Regions from separate parts of the Homo sapiens genome. Here region 2 is linked to region 1. The links come from fine-mapping of genetic effects on gene expression. A gene starts in region 1. The other region holds a variant in brackets. All regions are shown on one strand. Distances are from middle to middle. Region 1 holds the start of SKI (SKI proto-oncogene). Region 2 overlaps SKI (SKI proto-oncogene).

Evidence for each region. PIP is the estimated chance that this variant, and not a neighbour inherited with it, causes the effect.
Region 2: its variant is the best candidate, but not a certain one, in a credible set for the expression of SKI in whole blood (TOPMed, PIP 0.52).

The regions. Positions count from the first base shown.
Region 1 is chr1:2,223,382-2,233,408 of GRCh38, reverse strand. SKI (SKI proto-oncogene) reads right to left here and starts at 5,090. Exons shown (of 7, transcript NM_003036.4): 1 at 3,674-5,090. The coding sequence starts at 4,642. RefSeq lists enhancers at 2,162-2,211, 1,858-2,519, 6,349-7,169, 8,524-9,024 and a silencer at 5,260-6,029.
Region 2 is chr1:2,250,331-2,260,357 of GRCh38, reverse strand. The region is part of intron 1 of SKI (SKI proto-oncogene); the gene reads right to left. Among named protein-coding and RNA genes, the nearest start is that of SKI, 27 kb to the right of the region's middle. RefSeq lists enhancers at 1,050-1,099, 3,009-3,606, 4,274-4,568, 3,609-4,808. The variant A/C (reference allele first, on the strand shown) is at 4,712.

The sequences.
Region 1 (10,027 bases):
AGTCACCAGAATGCCCAGACTGCACGTGGCAGGTGAAGAACAGCTCTCACACAGGCAGCCCACCGCCCCTAGGAACAGGACGCCCGGCCCCCTCGGAGCAGGACCCCCGGCCCAGAACAGGACCCTGGCCCCCTCAGAACAGGATCCCGGACCTCTGGGAACAGGACCCCCCCCACCAGCCCTGTTGGAACAGAAACCCCGGCCCCCTCGGAGCAGGACCCCCCCTTGGAGCAGGATCCTGCCACGGCCCAAGGGAAGCACGGCACCACCCTGTTATCAGCCTGCACGGAAAGCGCTTGGCTGACGTTCTGCGGGACAAGGGGCCGCGTCCCAGGCAGCAGGCCAAGCGGCAGCTCCAACTGCCACATTTTGTCTCCGTCTCTGACAGCTGTCTATACTGACAAAAAAATGTAGTCCAATGGAGTCCTACAGCTATCAGAGAACCCGAGGAAGGAGGCGAGCCGACCGGAAAGAAGAAAGAGGGGTGGGAGTGGGGAAGGCTCAGAGGCTCCAGTCTTGGCTAAGTGCTCCCAGCAGCACAATGACCCATCTGTGCCCCACCTGTACCACTCAAAACATAAAGTCCAAGATCAATAAACAGTAGTCCCCAGTTTACACTGAGGCAGAGAGGTTAAGCAACTCGTCCAAGGTCACAAAGCCAGTGTGGGACCGAGTGGGGAGGTGAGACAAGGTCCCCTGTCAAGGATAGCAGCCCCAGGGTCCCTAAGAGGAGACTCGCCAAGCACCCATGCAGCCCACATGGTCTTCCAAGATACAGCAGCAGGAAGCTGGCCGGGCCCGACAGCCACTGGACAGAAGCGGAGGCTTCCTCTGTAACCCCGTGACATGAGGGGGCATCTGGAGGAAGACTGTCTGCCCCTCATGCTGCCACTGCACTGCCGACAGGCCAGAGGCTCAGGCACAGCCGCTGTCACAGGAGGCTTCCAAGGAGAAAGCTGCAGCCCTGCCTCCCACTTGGTTTGGGACCCGGGAACATCTCCGCCCTCTCCCACCTCCCACCATGGGTAGGAGAGTGGCGCTGACCCAGCCCACTCAGGCAGGAGACCCGACCCTGGCCTGGCCACAAACACCCGGAAGGCAATTCAGCCCCCTCCGGCTCCGCAGAGCCCGAAGGCCTGCTGGGAGCAGCAGCCCTGCAAAGAGAGTTCCAGTACATTCTTTGTTCTGCCCTCATCTTCGGCAGATCAAAAATATTAAAATAAGCTACAAAGGAAGTGAAGAAATCAAAACATATCCCGAGAATAAGCTGTCAAGACACGAGTGGGAGGAGCCAACGGCGGCCAGTGAGGGCGGAGGCGGGGCCTCCCAGGCCACTCCTTCTAGGACAAGTAGGGTCTGGGCACTGTGGGTCCACGCCCACCCTGAGACCACACTCCCTTCTCATGTGTCGCTCCTGTGCACACAGAGACACGCACACGGCTGTCCTGAGGAGACTTAAGGGGACCCTGAAGCCCAGAACTCCCAAGTGCACAGTCACAGAGCCTAAAGGGCAGGCACTGAGCGAGGGCAGAGTCCCTGGCCGCCATCCCACGTCAAGAACATAGAGCAGGAGGCAACACGGGCAGGATGGGTGCCCCACCCCCAGGAGCATGAGGAGAGGAAAACCCGCAGGAGCTGGTGAACATTCAGGGAGCCAGGCGGAGGACACCACTGCCAGGGCCAGGCTGTGTGGCTGCCACTCAGGCCTAGAGGACGCAGTCACTCACACCGTGCACGTCGTCAGTATGGCCTGGGAATTGCTTTTTAATCGGTAAATGAAATTTCAGAGCAGTGCTGGGGACTTCAAAAGGGAAAGGCGGCTCGGAGGCATCCGCTGAGATGACCAGAGCCTGTCTGGCCTGTCTCTATGGCGGCCCAAGGACCCCGGCGCTCACAACCACAGGGAGAGAGAAGCCGGGTGGCCTGGGCCCTGCTCTGTGTCAGCTGTGACAACGAGGCCCCACTGGCCACTCCAATGGGCCCCCAGCAAAGCCCAGGAAGACAGAAAGACCACAAGCACACACATGACCCACAGTCGGACAAAAACAAACGCAGACACACCCTGCTCAACCGAGATCCTCTGCCATCAGCTCTGAAGACAGTGACGTGAGCGTGTCCCAGCAGCTCAGGCCTTGGCCACAGGTGACCCACTACGCAGCCTGCACGAGCCCACAATCCCCCCCGACATGTGGCTTCCTCCAGCCACAGGCACTGACGAGGGTGCGGCCACCCCAAAAAGAAAGGCCCCAGCCCACAGGGAGCGCCATCGGGCCCACCCCAACCAACTCCCCGTGTGACACGAAGGGCCCCAGCCTGCTACGTCTGTCTGCAGCTCTGCCACGAGCATCCTTCCCCAGCCCACAGGTCTGCAGGCGGCTGCCACCTGAGCCCTGGCCTGGCAGGGTCAGAAGCGCGCACACACAAACACACACATGCACACACACATGCACCCTCCGCAGCCCCCTCCGAGCAGAGGCGACAGTCCCTCGCTTCCATCCACAGCCCCTCCTCCCCACGATCTGACACTCTGCTGGAGGGGCGCCCAGAGAAAACCGGGCTGGAGCATCTATTCACAGATTTAGAAAAAAAAAGTTTGATGCAATAGCTGAATTAATTAGGCCTCCCAAGAATAGCTGAGCCAATGCAGCATTCTGTGTGTGCAATTTAATAAGCCTGGATATTTAAAAGAAAAGTTACAAATACTTGGGGAGGTACGCAACGGAAAGTTCCTGAGGACCCCACTGAGTAATTTCGGCACCTCGTGGCCTGGGAGCTGCCCATGCCGGATCCCATAGATCCTCCAACTGGCAAACAACAAAGCCAGGCCAGCAGCCTCCCTCTCCGGCGCACCCCTCTGCGTTTCAGAGGGAGAGAAGGAAATGGGTGAGTCCAAAGCAAATCGCAGGCCGCCAGTAACTCCAGCACGCGGGCCCAGGAGCCTGCTGACCAGGCCCCTCAGCCGGGTGCCAAATGGCCCTCACCCCACACGGCGGACTCTGGGATTTGGTCCCTGGCAGGCCCAGGGAGACCAACCAGCACAGTGCTGGAGCCGCCAAGTCTCGGGCCCCTGCCACTGAAGCCTGGACACCTGGCTTCATTTTGTGTCTGTGTCCCAAAACTTCAAGGCACCAAACAGGGAGCGGGAGCCAGTAACAAAACCAGGCCTCGCCTCACCCAAGCTCTGTCTCCTGGGGCCCAAAGGCAGGCAGCCCTCCGTCTTCGAGGCTGGGTGCCTTCGGGGCGAGGACAGCCACCTTCACCCCAACCCCAAGAAAGACCTGGGCCTGAGGCATCCGGGCCGTGGCCCAGCTGGACCTAACTTCCCTGACCTGGGGCAGGCCGCTTTCTCGGGAGCATGAGGCCTGTGCCTTCCTATCTGGGCAATGCCTGTGGGCCTGCGGGCCTTCCCCACACACCAGGCCTGGCCCCCCACCCCACCGCCACAGCCCGCACTCCAGGCTCGTCCTGGGGAACGGGCAGGAGGGCCTTCCTACCAAACTCTCTGGCCCTGCCAGTCGGAACACTCTGAATTTCCCTAAAACAAAGCGAAGACTGGAGACATGGGGCACGGCAGAAGCACAGGTCCCAGCCTTCGGAGACCAGAGCCTGTAGTCCAGAAGGGGCCCCCACCCCAAGCGCATCCTCCCCAGCTCCCAGGCCTGGGGCCACTCACCCGGGGCACCCGCCGCTTGTACTTGTTGCCATAGTCGAATTTCTCCTTCACGTCGTCCAGGCAGCGGCCGAGGCGCGCCTGCTCCTCCTTGCCCGTGTAATCCTGGCTCAGCAGGATGTAGGCCCGCCAGTTGGCCGAGTCGAAGCCCCAGTGGCAGGTCCGGTTCTCCAGGGCCTTGTGCGAGTGCACCACGAACTTGTGCGGCGGGTACATGAGGCGGCAGTCCAGGCACTGGATGCAGGCGGCGCTCGGGCTGCTGTAGAGCTCGGGCACCAGCAGCCCCTTACACTTGCCGAAGCACTCGTGGTACACGCGGACGCTGCGCTCGCTGAGCTCCAGGCCCAGCGCCAGGCTGGCGGCCAGCTCCTTCTTGCAGGGCGGCGGGTAGGCGCCGCCGTAGAGCAGCGCGTTGCACAGGCGCTCGGCGTCCGTCTTGGTGATGAGCCCGCACGAGGGCGCCGAGAAGGGCAGGATGCCCATGACTTTGAGGATCTCCAGCTGGTCGGCCGTGCAGCGCGAGCAGTAGATGTGGAGCTCGTCGCACACCGCGTTGATCTGCTGCAGCGAGAAGTCGCGCAGCACCGAGTTGAGAATCTGCGGCAGACACAGGCGCTTCTCGCCTCCCACCACGAAGCACGAGATGGTCTCGCCTTCCAGTACGGTCTCGCAGCGCTCGGTGGAGCGGTCGGACGGCATGAAGAAGGGCCCGGGCAGCACGGGCGGCGGCGGCTGGATGGCGGGCAGGTGCAGCACGGGCGGCGGCTCGGTGGCTGCGGGCACCGGCGCCGGCACCGCGGCCGCGCCCGCCTCCTTGGCGCTCTCCTTCTTGTAGGCCTCCTGCGCCCAGCGCGCCGAGAAAGCGGCCGGGCCGCCCAGCGAGCTCATGGAGCTCAGGTGGAACTGCTCCAGCGTCTTCTGCAGCCCCGGGTGCGGCTGGAAACAGCCGCGGCCGCCTGCCGCCGCCTCCATGGTGCGCTCCGGCTCCCCCGGCCGCTCCCGCTCCCGCGCGCCCGGGCCCCCCCGGCCCCCGCCGCCGCCCCGCGCGCCCCGGCGGCGCCCGCGGCCCCGACCCCGGCCGCCCCCCGCCGCCGGCTCACGGCCGATCACGGCCGCGGCCTCGCCCGGGGGCGCGAAGGGGAAGGCGGGCGGGGCGAAGGGGTCCCGCCGCTGGAGCCCGCCGCCGCCCGGGCCCGGCGCCACATCCACGCGCCCCGCGCCGCGCCCGCCGCCGCCCGGGCCCCCCGCGCGTCCCCCGCGCGCCCCCCGGGCTCTAGGCGCGGGGCATGCCCCGGCGCGCGCCGCCAACGCCAACGCCAACGCTCGCGGGCCCGGGGCTCGCGGGGGGCGCGCGGGCAGGTGCCGGCGCCGCGAGGCGCGAATCGCCGCGGCGGCCGAGGCCGAGGGGCCCGGGAGGAGCGGGGGCGCGGGCGCGGGGCCCGCCGGGCCGTCCTCGCGCGGCGCGCCGCCGCCGCCCCGCTCCTCCCACCGCGAGGCGCCCGCCCGGCTCGTCCCGGCGGCGCTGGCCGGCCGCGTCGCGCCCGCCGCCGGCCCCCGGCCCGCCCGCCCGCCGGCTCCGCGGCCCGCCCGCCCGGCTTCCGGGGCGGCGGAGGCGCCTCTCGCCCGCGGCCCTCAGAGCGCGGCGGCGGCGCGGGGCTCGGGGCGCTCGGCGCACATCCTCCCGGCGGCTCGCTCCGGCTCGGACTGAGCGCCCGGCGCTGAGCTCACGCCGCCGCCGCGCCGCCCCGCCCCGCGCCGCCCGCTCCGCCCCGCGCCGGCCCCGCCCCCCGCGCTGTTTGTTGCCGTGCGTCCGCCTCAGCCCTAGCGCTGGCCAAGAATGTGACCCGCTCCCCAGCCGGGCTCTTCCAGGAACGCGCGCTCCCCGCCCGGACTCGGCCGCGCTCGGCTCCGCTCGCCCGGGACTCGGCCACGCTCGGACCCGCCCTGCCATGACTCGGCTCCGCTCGGCCGGGACTCGGCTACGCTCGGCCATGCTCGACTCCGCTCGGCCCCGCTCGGCCCCGCCCGCCGAGGGCCGCTGGGCGCGGGCGGAGGCGGAGGCGGCGGTGGCGCCCGGGGCCCCCCTTCCGGCCGAGGCCGCTTCCTGCGCCGCTGGGAAGGCGCCCGTCTCGCCGCCGTCGGGGCCCAGAAACCCACAGGCCCCCGCCACGACCGCAAACCAGCTGGGGGCGGCCGGGGGGCCACGCCACGCACCCGGGGTTCTCCCAGGGTGGGACACCACACAGCGGGGAGGCCCCGGACGCCTCTGGGGTCCCACACACTACCGGGACGCCACACGGTGACCTGGGGTCCCACACACGAGGGGGACAGCGGCCACGCCCAGGGACCCTGCGCCGAGACGGGCACCGCGTCGCGTGACCCTGGCGGCGCAGCCCGGCGGCCCCCGCTGCGCCGTGGCCGGTGGCTCGGTGGCCGAGTGTCCGCGGCTCCCGGCCGCGCCGGCCCCGCCCCGCCCGCCGGCCCCTGGCGGAGTGTCCCTGCTGCGCGGGCCGGGGGCTTCGGGCCTGGGAGGGGCGGCGCCCGGTGCCCCAGACGCAGCCGGTCTGCCAGCCACTCCTGCCAGGTGGCTTATCAGGACTTCGGCCCCGCGGGGCCCGGCGTTCGGGCCGGCGAGACCCCTGACCTCCGCCCCGGGGCCGTGGAGCGCTGAGACGTCTTTCGGGGTCGGATCGGCCGGCCCTCCACGCCTGGCCACGCAGTGGGAGAGACTCAAGCCTTGGCAGGGCGGGGAGCGGGAAGCCCGGGGCCCCGAAGTTGGACAGTCGGCCGGGTGGTCTCCAGGGGAGGCAGCTTCCAGCGAGGCCTGCGGGCGCAGGGACGCAATGGTGTGTTTGGGGAGGGGCAGGGCTCGGTCTGTGCTCGCCTGAGGCGGAGGGACATGCCCCACGGGCCGGGGGTGCCCAAGCTGGCCTGGGTGCTGGGCGGAGGCGAGAGGGCCACGCCGCTGCAACCTGAGTGACCTTCAGCTGGGACCTCCTGCCCCTCACTTCCCCAGTGGAGGCTGGAACCTGCCTCAAACCAGCACTCCTGGGCGCAGTTCCTATCCTGGGGGAGCCGGCCCGGAGTCCCTGTGCAGGTCTTGGCCGGACCTGCGGCAGGGCAGGTGTCTAGAGAGGCAGCCAGGACCTACCTGTAGGTGACCCCAGGGCGGCTCCATACTCCCTCTCTCCGCTGCCTTGGGGGTTGTCTCCTTGTCCTCACACTCCACACTGTCCCCCGACTCTTCCCATTCACTCCGTTGGCCCCCACAATTGGAGGCCAGGCTTTCTCTGTGTGTTCACACACCAGAAAGCTGGGTAAGAAGATCATTTCCTTAAAAGTGATATTTAACCCGGCAAGGTGGCTCACGCCTGTAATCCCAGCACTTTGGGAAGATAAGGCAGGCGCATCGCTTGAGCCCAGGAGTTCAAGACTAGCCTGGGCGATATAGTGAGACCCTGTCTACAAAAAATAATTTTTTTTTTTAATTAGCCGGGCATGGTGGCCTGCACCTGTGGTCTCAGCTACTTGAGAAGCTGAGGTGGGAAGATTGCTTGAGCCCAGAAGGTTGGGGCTGCGGGGAGCCGTGCTTGAGCCTCTGCACTCCATCCTGGGTGATAGGGACACACCCTTTTTTTGAGACAGACCCTGTCTCAAAAAAAAAAAAAGGGTCAGCCTCAGTGGCTCATGCCTGTAATCCCAGCACTTTGGGAGGCCGAGGCAGGCGGATCACGAGGTCAGGAGATCGAGACCATCCTGGCTAACGGTGAAACCCCGTCTCCACTAAAAATGCAAAAAATTAGCTGGGCGTGGTGGTGGGCGCCTGTAGTCCCAGCTACTCAGGAGGCTGAGGCAGGAGAATGGCGTGAACCTGGGAGGCGGAGCTTGCAGTGAGCCGAGACTGCGCCACTGCACCCCAGCCTGGGCGACAGAGCGAGACTCCGTCTAAAAAAAAAAAAAGGATATTCAGTCCAGACGCAGGGGCTCACGCCTGTAATCCCACCACTTTGAGAGGCTGAGGCGGGTGGATTATTTGAGATCAGGAGTTGGAGACCAGCCTGGCCAACATGGTGAAACCCCCTCTCTACTAAATATACAAAAATCAGCCGGGCATGGTGGCACATGCCTGTAATCCCAGCTACTCGGGAGGCTGAGGCAGGAGAATCGCTTGAACCTGGCAGGTGGAGATTGCAGTGAGCTGAGACTGCACCACTGCACTCCAGCCTGGGCGATGGAGTGAGACTCTGTCTCAAAAAAAAAAAAAAAAAAAATAGAAAAGGGACTTATTTGTTTTCCTGGAGATAGTTTCGTTGGCCCACGTTTTGGACAAAACACAGCTAGTGTTGCACTTGACGTTGTCACTTCCTTCCATCTGGATTTGAATTCCATACAACTCAGTCAAATTGTAACTCAGAGAAGGTGGTTGCAGCCAGGCCTGCTGGGAAGTGTCTCCAATCAAGCAGAGAATTCCTCTGGCTCCTCTGGTGGACCAGGGGCTCTGTGCAGGGCCCCTAGCATGGGCAGTGCCCACCCAGAGCCTCTGCTTCCTTCTGTGCCTCTGGCTTTGCAGGGTCCTAGCCAGGGACCAACACTTTGTCCAGAGTGCGGACCCCTGGGAAGTAGCCATAGGTGTGCCATGGAGTGAAGGTGCGGGGACAGGTGAGGGCCTCCAGTTGGTCTCTGAAGCTACCTCCACCTTTGTGGACTCTTGAGACTTCCTTCCCCCAATATGTCAGAGCTTCCAGAGGAAGGCACCCACCCCACCAAGGGTCAGAGCAGCCACGCCTAGAGGGAGCCACCAGGGTCCACTTTTCTTCCTGAGCTTGGCAGGGAAGAGGGTGGGGGGTGTCTCCCGCCTGCTGGCCTTCCACCCTCCAGCCCCGCCCAGCAGCTGCCCAGGCCAGTCGCCCACGCGGGCCACCATACTGGCAGGCCGCGGGTTAAGGCTGCAGGCACAGCCACAGCGCGGAGTAGGGTGGGATGGACGTGGTGCCTGCCCAGAGAAGCCCTGGCATGCGGGCAAAGGCAGGGACCTCCCAGCTTTCTCCCTGGCCCCTACCACGGTGACAGGCTTGGTCAGCTAGTCATGAGTTTGTCCCCTTGTTCGATGAGCTCCTACCACTGTAGACACTGGGATCAGGGTAAGGAGACCAGGTTGTACCCCGTGTGGTTCCATTCTGGTGTGAGAGACAACAGTCAATCAACAAACCTGCTAGTACGGGAGCGAGATCTTTCAGATCCCCAAAAGGCGCGGAGTGGCTGGGGCTGGCTGTAGGCAGGGAGGGCCTCCTGGGAGGCTGGCCTTGGAGTTGAGACCCCCACCTTAAGGAGCCAGCAGTGTGGAGATGAGTTGGATGGCGCCCCAGGACCAGAAAGAGGAAGACACTGGCAAAGCAAGGGGTACCCCAAGCTTTGGGGGAACTTGGAAACCTTGGTGGGGAAATGCATCGCAGACCAGCTCTGCTCCACCCTGCCTTGCCCTGCCCTGCTGCCACCCACTCTCTCCTCCTCAGGAAGCAGAAGGAAGGCCTTGTAGCAGCCAGGCATAGACTGCCATTGGCAAAAACATGCTCAGTTACTGGGAAAGAAACCTTCAAATGTGAAAATAAAAATTGCTCAAGTAACATCAGCTTCGTATAATTTTGTTTTGTTTTTGTTTTTGTTTGAGATGAAGTTTCGCTCTTGTTGCCCAGGTTGGAGTGCAATGGTGCGATCTCAGCTCACTGCAACGTCCATCTCCCAGGTTCAAGCGATTCTCCTGCCTCAGCCTCCCGAGTAACTGGGATTACAGGCGCCTGCCACCATGCCCAGCTAATATTTTGTATTTTTAGTAGAGACAGGGTTTCACTATGTTGGCCAGGCTGGTCTTGAACTCCTGACCTCAGGTGGTCCACCTGCCTCAGCCTCCCAAAGTGCTGGGATTACAGGCTATGCCACCGTGCCCGGCCAGTAGAAATTTTAGAAAGACCTTTGTCTTACTTTGGATTCCCCCAAACATAGGCCCTGAGACAAAGATTTTTATTTTACTTTATTTTATTTTATTACTTTATTTTTGAGACAGAGTCTTCGCTTTGTCATCCAGGCTAGAGTGCAATGGCACGATCTCGGCTCACTGCAGCCTCAGCCTCCTGCATTCAAGTGATTCTCATGCCTCAGCCTCCCGAGTAGCTGGGATTACAGACATGCGCCATCACACCAGGCTAATTTTTGTATTTTTAGTAGAGACGGGGTTTCACCATGTTGGCCAGGCTGGTCTCAAACTCCTGACCTCAGGTGATCCGCCCGCCTTGGCCTTCCAAAGTGCTGAGATTACAGGCGTGAGCCACTGTGCCTGGCCTTTTATTTAATTTTTTATTT
Region 2 (10,027 bases), 27 kb before region 1:
AACCCAGTCTAAAATAACTGGCAAAAATCAGAAGGGACATTTCACCAAAGAAGACATATGGTGGCAAATACGCACAAGAGAAGCCACTCTACGTTCTCAACGATTGGGGAAGCGCAACTTAAACCTCAAGGAGATGCCGCCGCACACCCATCAGGACGGCTGAACGCCTAAGCCCGCCCACCACACACGCTGGCCAGGACGTGGAGCAGCAGGAACTCTCACTCACTGCTGGTAGGACGAGGAATGGTGCAGCCACCTTGGAAGATAGTCTGGCAGTTTCTAAAAGTTAAACATAAGCACAAATATATGATCCAGCCATTCCACACCTAGGTATCTATCCAGGGAAATAAAACCGTGTATCCCGACAACAACTTGTACCCGAATGTTCACAGCCGCTTTCTTTGTGACAGTCAAGAACTGGAAACACTCCACACGCTCCAACGGGCAAATGGAGGAACAAACGCGACATCCACGCAGGGGAACACTGCCCAGCACACGCCACGCATCCAAGGAGCCCAAAATAATGACGCTGAGGGAAGGAAGCCAGACCAAAAGAAGAACATATTGTAGGATTTCATTTAGACAAAGCTCTAAGGAAGGCAACGAATCTACAGGCCCAAAAGCAGACTGCTGCAGCCTGGGGAGAAAGGGGTGTGGGTAGGAGAGAGCTTCTGGGTGACGGACAGGTTCATCATCTGGACGGCAGCGAGGGTTTTATACATGTTTTATATGTGTTTGCATACATCAAAAGTTATCTAACTGTATCTTTAAATATACGCAGCTTATGTTAATTATGCCTCAAAAAGCCGTTTTAAAAAATAACTACACAGCAATCATCCTAACTGCACCCTTATATTCCAGGCTTCATTTGATCTATAGCTTTAAACAACCTCCACAGCTCAGGACAAAGGTAAACTGGTGGCATGAAACCACCACGGCTTCTGTCGCTGACCTCAGAGATGCCCTTTTCCATCCTAAAGAGTTTCACAAAAACAATGTAGCCCTGCGTTACAATTATTCTTTCTCTAGATCAGGAACCTGCAAGTGTTTTCCGTAAGGGACCAAATCACACATATTTTGGGTTTGTAGGCCACATGGTCTCTCTCGCACCTACTCAGCCTTTCTGCTGTGGCACAAAACAGCCACAGACAGCACCGGCGAGGGCGGTGGGGCGTGGCCATGCACCTGTAAAACTTTACCCACAAAAGGAGGCAGGGGTTCCGGAGGAGCCACCATGTCATCTGGGAACTTGCTAGAGATGCACATTCTCAGTCCCTACCTCGGACCTGGGAACCCAGAATTCTGGGGATGGAGCCCACAGCATGTCATTTCAGAAGCCAGCCCAAGATTCCAAACCTTGGGTTTGAATATGCTGGTCTAGAAAACCGGCCAAGTGATGAGCTGATCTGATTTAAAAGGAACACACCCCGAGGCAAACACTCAAGGGCCAGGCACTGCTGACCCTGCTCCCAGGTGGGGCCCTGGGCCACCTCAGATAAAACATGAGCTCCCGCCAGGCACGGTGGCTCACGCCTGTAATCCCAGCACTTTGGGAGGCCAAGGTGGGTAGCTCACAAGGTCAGGAGTTCAAGATCAGCCTGACCAACAAACCCCGTCTCTACTAAAAATTAAAAAATTAGCCGGGCATGGTGGCAGGCGCCTATAATCCCAGCTACTCAGGAGGCTGAGGCAGGAGAATCCCTTGAACCTGGGAGGCAGAGGTTGCAGTGAGCCAAGACCACATCACAGCACTCCAGCCTGGGTGACAGACCTAGACTCTGACTCAAAAACAAAAACAAAAAAAAACATGAGTTCCCCGACCAAGCCACTCATGGGAGAAAAAAAAAAAAAAAAGGAAAATGACACTCCTGATAAACCTGTTACTCCATTTCCTGACTGACAAGTTTCAACTCTTTTTAAAAAACACAATTCTCAAACGCCTCTGCTGTTCTTCCATGACGCCGTAGCACGCTCAGCACAGCCACTGTCCCATCCTCCCTAGGGGGCGATTCGGCCTCGGCATCTAGAATAGGGGCATCTGAGCTGGTCCCACACATACCAGCCGAGACCATTCTATGCTGCAGACACCGAACATACGGGTTTAAGGACCAGGAATCCTGTGTGTCCACGTGTGCATGCACACACATTGTCACTAGATAAAACACCACATTCCAAGACAATAACATCTGGCTGTCCAAAGATTACTTCTGGTTAAAGTCGCAAATAATCAGTATTGCCATATTTCCCTTTATAAAGTACCTCTTCACACTCTTCCTTGCTCAATGCTTAAAATGTCAACATTTACTTAAAATGTTGTGCAGGCTGGGCACAGTGGATCAAGCCTGTAATCCCAGCACTTTGGGAGGCTGAGGCGGGCAGATCACCTGAGGTCGGGAGTTCGAGACCAACCTAACCAACATGGAGAAACCCCATCTCTACTAAAACTACAAAATTAGCCAGGCATGGTGGCACATGCCTGTAATCCCAGCTACTCAGCAGGCTAAGGTAGGAGAATTGCTTGAACTCAGGAGGCGGAGGCTGCAGTGAGCCCAGATCACACCATTGCACTCCAGCCTGGGCAACAAGAGCAAAGTTCCACCTCAAAAATAAATAAATAAGTAAATAAATAAATATATAAAATATAAAAATCTTTTGCAAATCCAGAGAAACATGTCAAGAAGATATAATAATTCAAAAGCATGAGGAAAGAAATCCAGTTTTAAGACGGAAGAGCAACATCGCTTCAACCCCATTCTCCTCTCAAAAATCGCCGAGAGCCCGGCTCTTGGATGAAGGAAGCATTGTCTCGAGCTCAAGCACACATAGGGCAGGAGGCAGCTGGGAGGAGGCGGCTGGGGGCCAAGCAGCTGCAGAGGCAGACGCTAGGGAGCCACGCCGACGCGCTCTGGCACCAAAGCGCCACCATGGGAGGGGAGGCCTTGCAGAAGCAGGATCGGGGCTGGCCCGCACGTCTGCATAAGAGCCATCCGCGGGCTCCCAGGTGCCCTCCCCCTTGCAGCCATTGGCACGTCAGCCTTGACGTGACCAGATGGTCAAGAATTGGCAATGTGGGGAAATGCCCCTTTAAAGCCGAGGTCTGAAACCAACCAAAGGAATGCAGAGGAAACCAGCAGGACAAACTGTCAAGAAAAACATCATTAATGTCTGCAGCAACAGGAGAAAGATACAGCATCCACAAGTCACAAAAGGTGGGAGCTTTTACAAAGAGATAGATATCTTAGAAACGAAAATGAAATCATGAAACTAAAAGTAGCCAACAAAGAAAGTGCTCATGATAAGGCGGAGACCTCCAGAGAGTAATCCTGAGCCACAAGGGAACAGCAGGGAGACCACAGCAACCGGAGCACCAGTGCCAGGAGGACCAACGTCCAGCCCTAGGGAGCACCGAGCAGAAGATGCCACGGGCACCATCCCGAAGATCGGGGCGCGAGCCTCCTGGCAACAAAAACCTGACAAGGGCCCAATAGGCGCCCAACACAGGGCCAAACACAAGCCGCCTCGAGGTGTCTGACAAGACATTTTGAATGCCAGATCTAAGAGGAGGTTCTGAAAGCTCCTGAAGGGCACAGTCAGGTCACATGTCAGAGCCCAAAGCAGATGGCAGGGGACTTCGCCATGGGGACACCAGAGGCAAGACGCTGAGGAGCGCCGACAAGTGTTCTGTTCCAGCCCTCCATACACGGGTGCCCAGTTACCAGGTCAGCCATGCAACACCCAAAGCACGTGCCTCCCAGGCACCCAACTGCACAGTGTGCTGTGGCTACTCAGGTAAGGATGAACCCAGGAGGGGAACCCCTAGAATCCCTCACCAGGAAGAGCACAGAAATACCCAGGGCGGGCAGGTGAGGGCCAGCTGGCCATCGGCCTCTGGACCACAGAGGGAGGGGGCAGAGAAGAACGCTGGAGCAAGGACGGAGCAGCCAGAGATCCTGAGAAAACCAAGCAAGGGAGTAAAAACCAAGATGATGCCTAACTCCAGGAACACACAGTGGAGAGGAAATGAGGTCAGGCACGCAACTCCAAGACAGAAAGCAGCACAGACAGGAAATGAGGTAAGGACACAGAGAGCTCCAGACAGGAAATGAGGTCAGGACACAAGACAGGAAATGAGGTCAGGACAGAGTGCTCCAGACAGGAAATGAGGTCAGGACACAGAGTGGCACAGATAAGAAATGAGGTCAGGACACAGAGTGGCACAGACTGGAAAAGAGGTCAGGACACAAGAGTGGCACAGACAGGAAATGAGGTCAGTACACAGAGTGCTCCTGACAGGAAATGAGATCAGGACAGAGAGAGCTCCAGACAGGAAATGCAGTCCGGGCACAGTGTGTTGCATACAGGAAATGAGGTCAGGACAAAGAGTGGCACAGACAGGAAATGAGGTCAGGACAGAGTGACACAGACAGGAAATGAGGTCACTGGCTCCAGACAGGAAATGAGGTCAGGACAGAGAGAGCTCCAGAGAGGAAATGCAATCCGGACACAGCATGTTCCAGACAGGAAATGAGGTCAGGACAAAGGGTGGCACAAACAGGAAATGAGGTCAGGATACAGAGTGCTCCAGACAGAAAATGAGGTCCGGACAAAGTGGCACAGACAGGAAATGATATCAGGATACAGCATGTTCCAGACAGGAAATGAGGTCAGGACATAGAGAGATCCAGACAGGAAATGAGGTCAGGACAGAGAG[A/C]GCTCCAGACAGGAAATGCAGTTAGGACACAGCATGTTCCAGACAGGAAATGAGGTCAGGACAAAGGGTGGCACAGACAGAAAATGAGGTCAGGACAGAGCGGCACAGACAGGAAATGAGGTCAGGACACAGAGAGCTCCAGGCAGGAAATGAGGTCAGGACACAGTGTGTTCCAGACAGGAAATGAGGTCAGGACAGTGTGCTCCAGACAGGAAATGAAGTCAGGACACAGTGTTCCAGATAAGAAATGGGGTCAGAAGACACCACTCAGTCATATTAATCAGCCAAAGGATAGATTTATCAAAACTCAAGACGCAAGGTGTCAGCACGTGGGGCTGTGGCAGGTACAGGTCTAAGCAGCTGGACTGAGGTCAAGCACCATAGTGCTTGTCACACTCAGGTACGTGGGGGTCACTCAGGTACATGGGGTCAACAGAAGACTATGCAGCAAGAATGGGGAGCGTCCCTGCCTGTGGAAAGTTGGGGAGGACAGGATGGGGACACTGGCTGTCATCATTCAGCTTTTGGTATGCCATGGACTCCTTAGCTAAAGATAAAAGACAAAAGAAAGGCCGCATGGTAGGGTGACCGACACCTGAGAGAAACTGGCCTAACAAGCACGTGGGGTGTGGTGCCAGTCCACAGCACGCACCACAGGACACAGAGGTGACACTGTGGGGCAGTGCCCAGCCATGTCCCCTAAAAGCCACCTGCACCCAAGTGCACAGCACAGGCATTTGGAGGAAAGAAGTGTTGTTGTGGCTGTCTCCACCCTCAGAAACCCCCCAGAGCTCACCTGACCGCAGGGACCCCATAGGTGTGCAGCAGGGGGGCTGCACGCCTCAGGTGCAAATGCCAATGGCCCGTGCTATTCCACCAGCAAATGCCCTGCGCATCACACACACACACACACGCACGCAGTGACCACAGTCTGGCCAAGACTGTGATAACTTCAGGAACAAAGAGAAGACTCCAATTCGGCTCCTACCTCCCAGTCCACTTCACCCCTCCCCAGAGATAGTGGTGACGGCCACAAGTCTAGGCACAAGGCCAGACAGGTAGACCGGTCACTGCACACAAGGACAGGCTGACAGCCAGAGGCCGCGTCTTCAACGCACCCAGACTGAGTATCAAGTAAATTAAAATAAAAAGCAGTCCAGTAGACATCTAAGTAGGACCTCAAGCCTTCGGGAAGGGACGGTAATCCTAGGATGAGGCATTGCCATTTCAGGGCTGTTTGGGACGGGGACATGTCACGCTGGAGATCTCAGTGCAGCAGAGTCCCCCAAGCACCCTGTGACACGAAGACCCACGGGGGGAGAGCAGAGCCGAGCCCTCCCACCCCCTCCAACGGGCACCACGCATGGAGACCAGTTGGGCCAGCACTCTTGCAGGCGCACCAGCAGGTCGTGGCCTCCTCTAGCGTGGACCTTCCAGATTCTTCACAATCAGTGTCTGGAGGGGAACAAGCAGCTCCCACGTGGGTCCAACACCTCAGAGGAGCAGCGCCAGTGCCAACCCCAGCCCCTCATGGTCACTGGAGCCCACCTGGAATGTCTAGAATGGTGCCTTCTGTGCAAGAGCCACATGAGGCAGCTCCGGACAAGCATCCGTGGCCTGACGACCAGGCACGTGGCCCTTGCCGCCGTGGTCCACACAGCCAGGATGGGCATCCAGAAGGACCCAGAGCCTTCTCTTCCAGCAGCAGGCACTCTGGGGACACCACTCTGGCCCAAGATGTGTGCACACCACCAGAAAGCAACCCTCAGCAAGTCCAGCATCGATGCCCGGCCCCCGCACACACCTCCCCTCTGCTGTCACTGTGGGCTCTCAGCCCTGGTAGGGGGGGCACAACACCCCCAAACCAAGGCCTCAAGCCAGGGCCGCACCAGGGCACGAGGGACCCGCAGCCTCACTCCCAGGGCCCCTGTGGGCAGCAGCACCAGCTCCATCCTCCATCTGCTCGCACCGTTCCTAGCTGTCAGAACTGGGGGCATGTGGCTCATTTAGTAAGTGCACACGCGCTGGGAAGATGTCCTCAGGAACAAAAGTGAGGAGGCCCTGGCAGAGGCCAGCAGCCCCCTGAGACAGGGCATATGTGCAGGAAGGGCTGACAGGAACATAAGGCTGCGTGTCCTGTTCCTTCCGATTCCTCCAAGTGTGTGTCCAAGGACGACCTGCACTCACAAGTGGCCAGGCTTCTCCCTGGGTTGTAAACCAAGGGATACACCAAAACTCAGGAAGCCCCCTTTATGGATAACTCCAGACACCTAAAGTCTGGGGAGCCTCCCACCTTTTGCCCGCTGTGCTGGAGCCCGTGATACCGGCCTGGGTGCTCTGGAGCCCATGATACCAACCTGGGTGCTCTGGAGCCCGTGATACCGGCCCGGGTGCTCTGGAGCCTGTGATGTAGGCCTGGGTGCTCCAGACTCCACAGGGGAGGCTGCGCTGCAGGCGGGTGCTGGACTCACAGAGCAGCTAAAGCAACTGAACTGAATCGCGTTATGAAATATTTACTCCAATTTAGCAACTCTATTTTTTTTTTTTTTTTCAGACAGGGTCTCACTCCATCACCCAGGCTGCAGTACAGTGGCATGACCTGGGCTCACTGCAACCTCTGCCTCCCGGATTCAAGCTCTTCTCATGCCTCAGCCTCCCAAGTAGCTGGGATTACAGGCACCTGCAACCACGCCCGGCTAATTTTTGTATTTTCAGTAGAGATGGAGTTTTGCCATTTTGATCCAGGCTGGTCTCAAACTCCTGACCTCAAGTGATCTGCCCATCGCCAACTCCAAAAGTGCTGGGATTACAGGCACGAGATACCGCGCCTGGCCTCACTTCCTTCTTGTAACGTTCAATATTTCACTCTTCCACGGATGCGCTGGGACCATGGGACGGCTCTTCCAGAAGAGCTGAGCACCAGCCTGGTGCTGGCCCTGAGGGAGGAACCCATACCACGCGTTTGGGGACAGCTGTGAGGACGCTGGCCGGGTACTCCAGAGGGCCACAGACTGTGCCAGAAAGGACCGTGAGCAAGGGGCTGCTCCCTTCCCTGAGCTGTACCTGCTCCGCGGGCACTGACTGCTGGGCCGCCAGGTTTCTCTCGAGTGTGGAAATAAAGACCCTCAGTCAGCAGCTCAGACGGACGAAAGCCTTCCACAGGCCAAAACACCATGACATAAAGGGGCCCTGCAGAGGTTAGTGCCAGGTGGGACCCGGGACCAAGCTGCTTCTGGGGAGGCTGAGTGCAGCCCTGCACCAGGATCAGAACGTGGGGCAGCCTCCTCAGCAGCCACAGCACCCTCCTGGGGCCCAGGGGATTCTCAATCGAGCCAGGCCACAGCAAACCCTGGTCTTGGGACACAGCCCCCTACTCAGCTTTCTCACCTTTCACGGAGCAGCTAAAAATGAATGGACCCGTTCTTTACAAGACTTTTGAAAACTTAAGGTAGGATAAAGTTTGTTATTAAACTGGAGATTCCAACCCTCCACATCTGAAGAGCGCCCTACCTGCCCTCGGTTCCTCCTCCTCCTCCTCAGATCTCTCACCGGGGGGTGCACAGAGACCTGGCAGGAAACCCCGAGAGGCCTCCCCACAGGTGTGCAGAGCACTGGCAAAGACCAGCATCACTCCCACGTGCCACGGCGCGTCTGGGCACAGCCACTGCCAGGAACAGTGAAATGTCAACGGACATGACAGCTGGGGAGGCCTCCAGAGACGAGGCCAGATAAGCCGGTTCAGCCACGCTGTGCCCGGAGCCAAGGGGCGGGGAGGGAAGCAAGAAGGGGAGAAGCTGCAGGTTTGTGTCACTGGCCAACAACAACCAGACTCGAGAAAATGGTCGACATTCACGAGGAAAGAAATACTTTGCGGTTCATTTTTCTAGAAAAAGCCACCGTGTACAAACACAATTTCACAGCTGAGACCTGTGAACCTATCACATACATTGGGTTCCACCAGTGACATGGAGCAGGTCTCCCACTGCCCGGCGCCAGCCCCCCCAGATGCTGCCCACACAGAGGCAGTAACCGTTACACAGGCGAGGGCTCTACAGGGAAAGGAGGGCGGCTGCAGCTGGGGATGAGCCTCGATGGCCCCACACGACCTGGGGACCAGGACAGGAGTGAACACACCATACGTCACTGTGGTGGGACGTGAGGGCGCTTGAGAGCTGGGAAAACCCTGCCGGCTCTGAAATAAGACCTCAGCAGGGGCTGGGGCAGGGGGAGGGAGCGGGGGTTCACACCTGTAATCCCAGTACTGTGGGACACCAGGCGGGAGGATGGCTCAAGCCCAGGAATTCACGACCAGCCTGGGCCACAGAGTGAGACCCCATCTCTACAAAAAATAAATAAATAAAAGAACATCAGCAGATACCCAGACCTGTGGGCAGCCAACAGAAGGTCAACTTGGGCATCAAAACTGTGACTAGAACGGACAGTAAGTGACTCTTTCCGAACACGGTCCGCAGCGCTACTACACGGCAAGAAGGCAGGCGGGAGGAGAAAGGCGAGACTCCAGCAGCAGCAGTGGCCAAGAGTGCGGTCAGTGCCCCACGTCCCCATCCCTAAGACAAGCAGACTCACCAGGGATCCTGGCCCACCCGGATAAAGTCCATGGGGACAGGGGACTTTTGGGGTCCAAAGTTCCCCTCGGCGGATTACTCATTAATTACCAAGGGAGAGGCTCCCCTGAGAAAAGCATGGGGGCCGCTTGCTCCTGATGCCTCCCACGCCTCTGATAGGGCACCGGCCCCCCGGGGCTGCCGCTACCCACCTGCCCGTCCGGGCCCTGCCAACGCGCAGCCAGCTGCCTAGGGCAACGAGGCAGGCCCAAGAGAAGAGTCAGCTGAGCCGCCAGGCAGGTCCCAGGCAGAAGTAAACTACTGAAGAGGGCGTGGCAGACACGGCAGAGCGTGGCCAGGGGAGCCAGCTTCCCAGACTTGGTCACCGTGTCACGGTCACACACCACATCCCCTTACTTTTAGAAATTCAGAATGAAGGGCTTAGCAGGGAGGACCCCACTGACTGAAACATTCTCTCAAATGACCGGCAAAAAGTTGCAAAAACAGTCGTGGCGAGAGGAGGCCAGTGCCAGCAGCAGCTGAGCTCAGGGAATGGGGACTCACCACGTTCTTCCTGCAACTTCGCTGTATGTAGGTTTGGAGATTTCTCAAAATAAAAAGACCCAAACCAAGGACAGGCAGCAGGCTTGCAAATGGGCCACTTCCTGCTCCTCCATCAGCCATGGACAGTGGCATACCTGGGCAGCAGTGGCCACCCCACACTCGAGGACACGCTGGGAACGGACAGCGG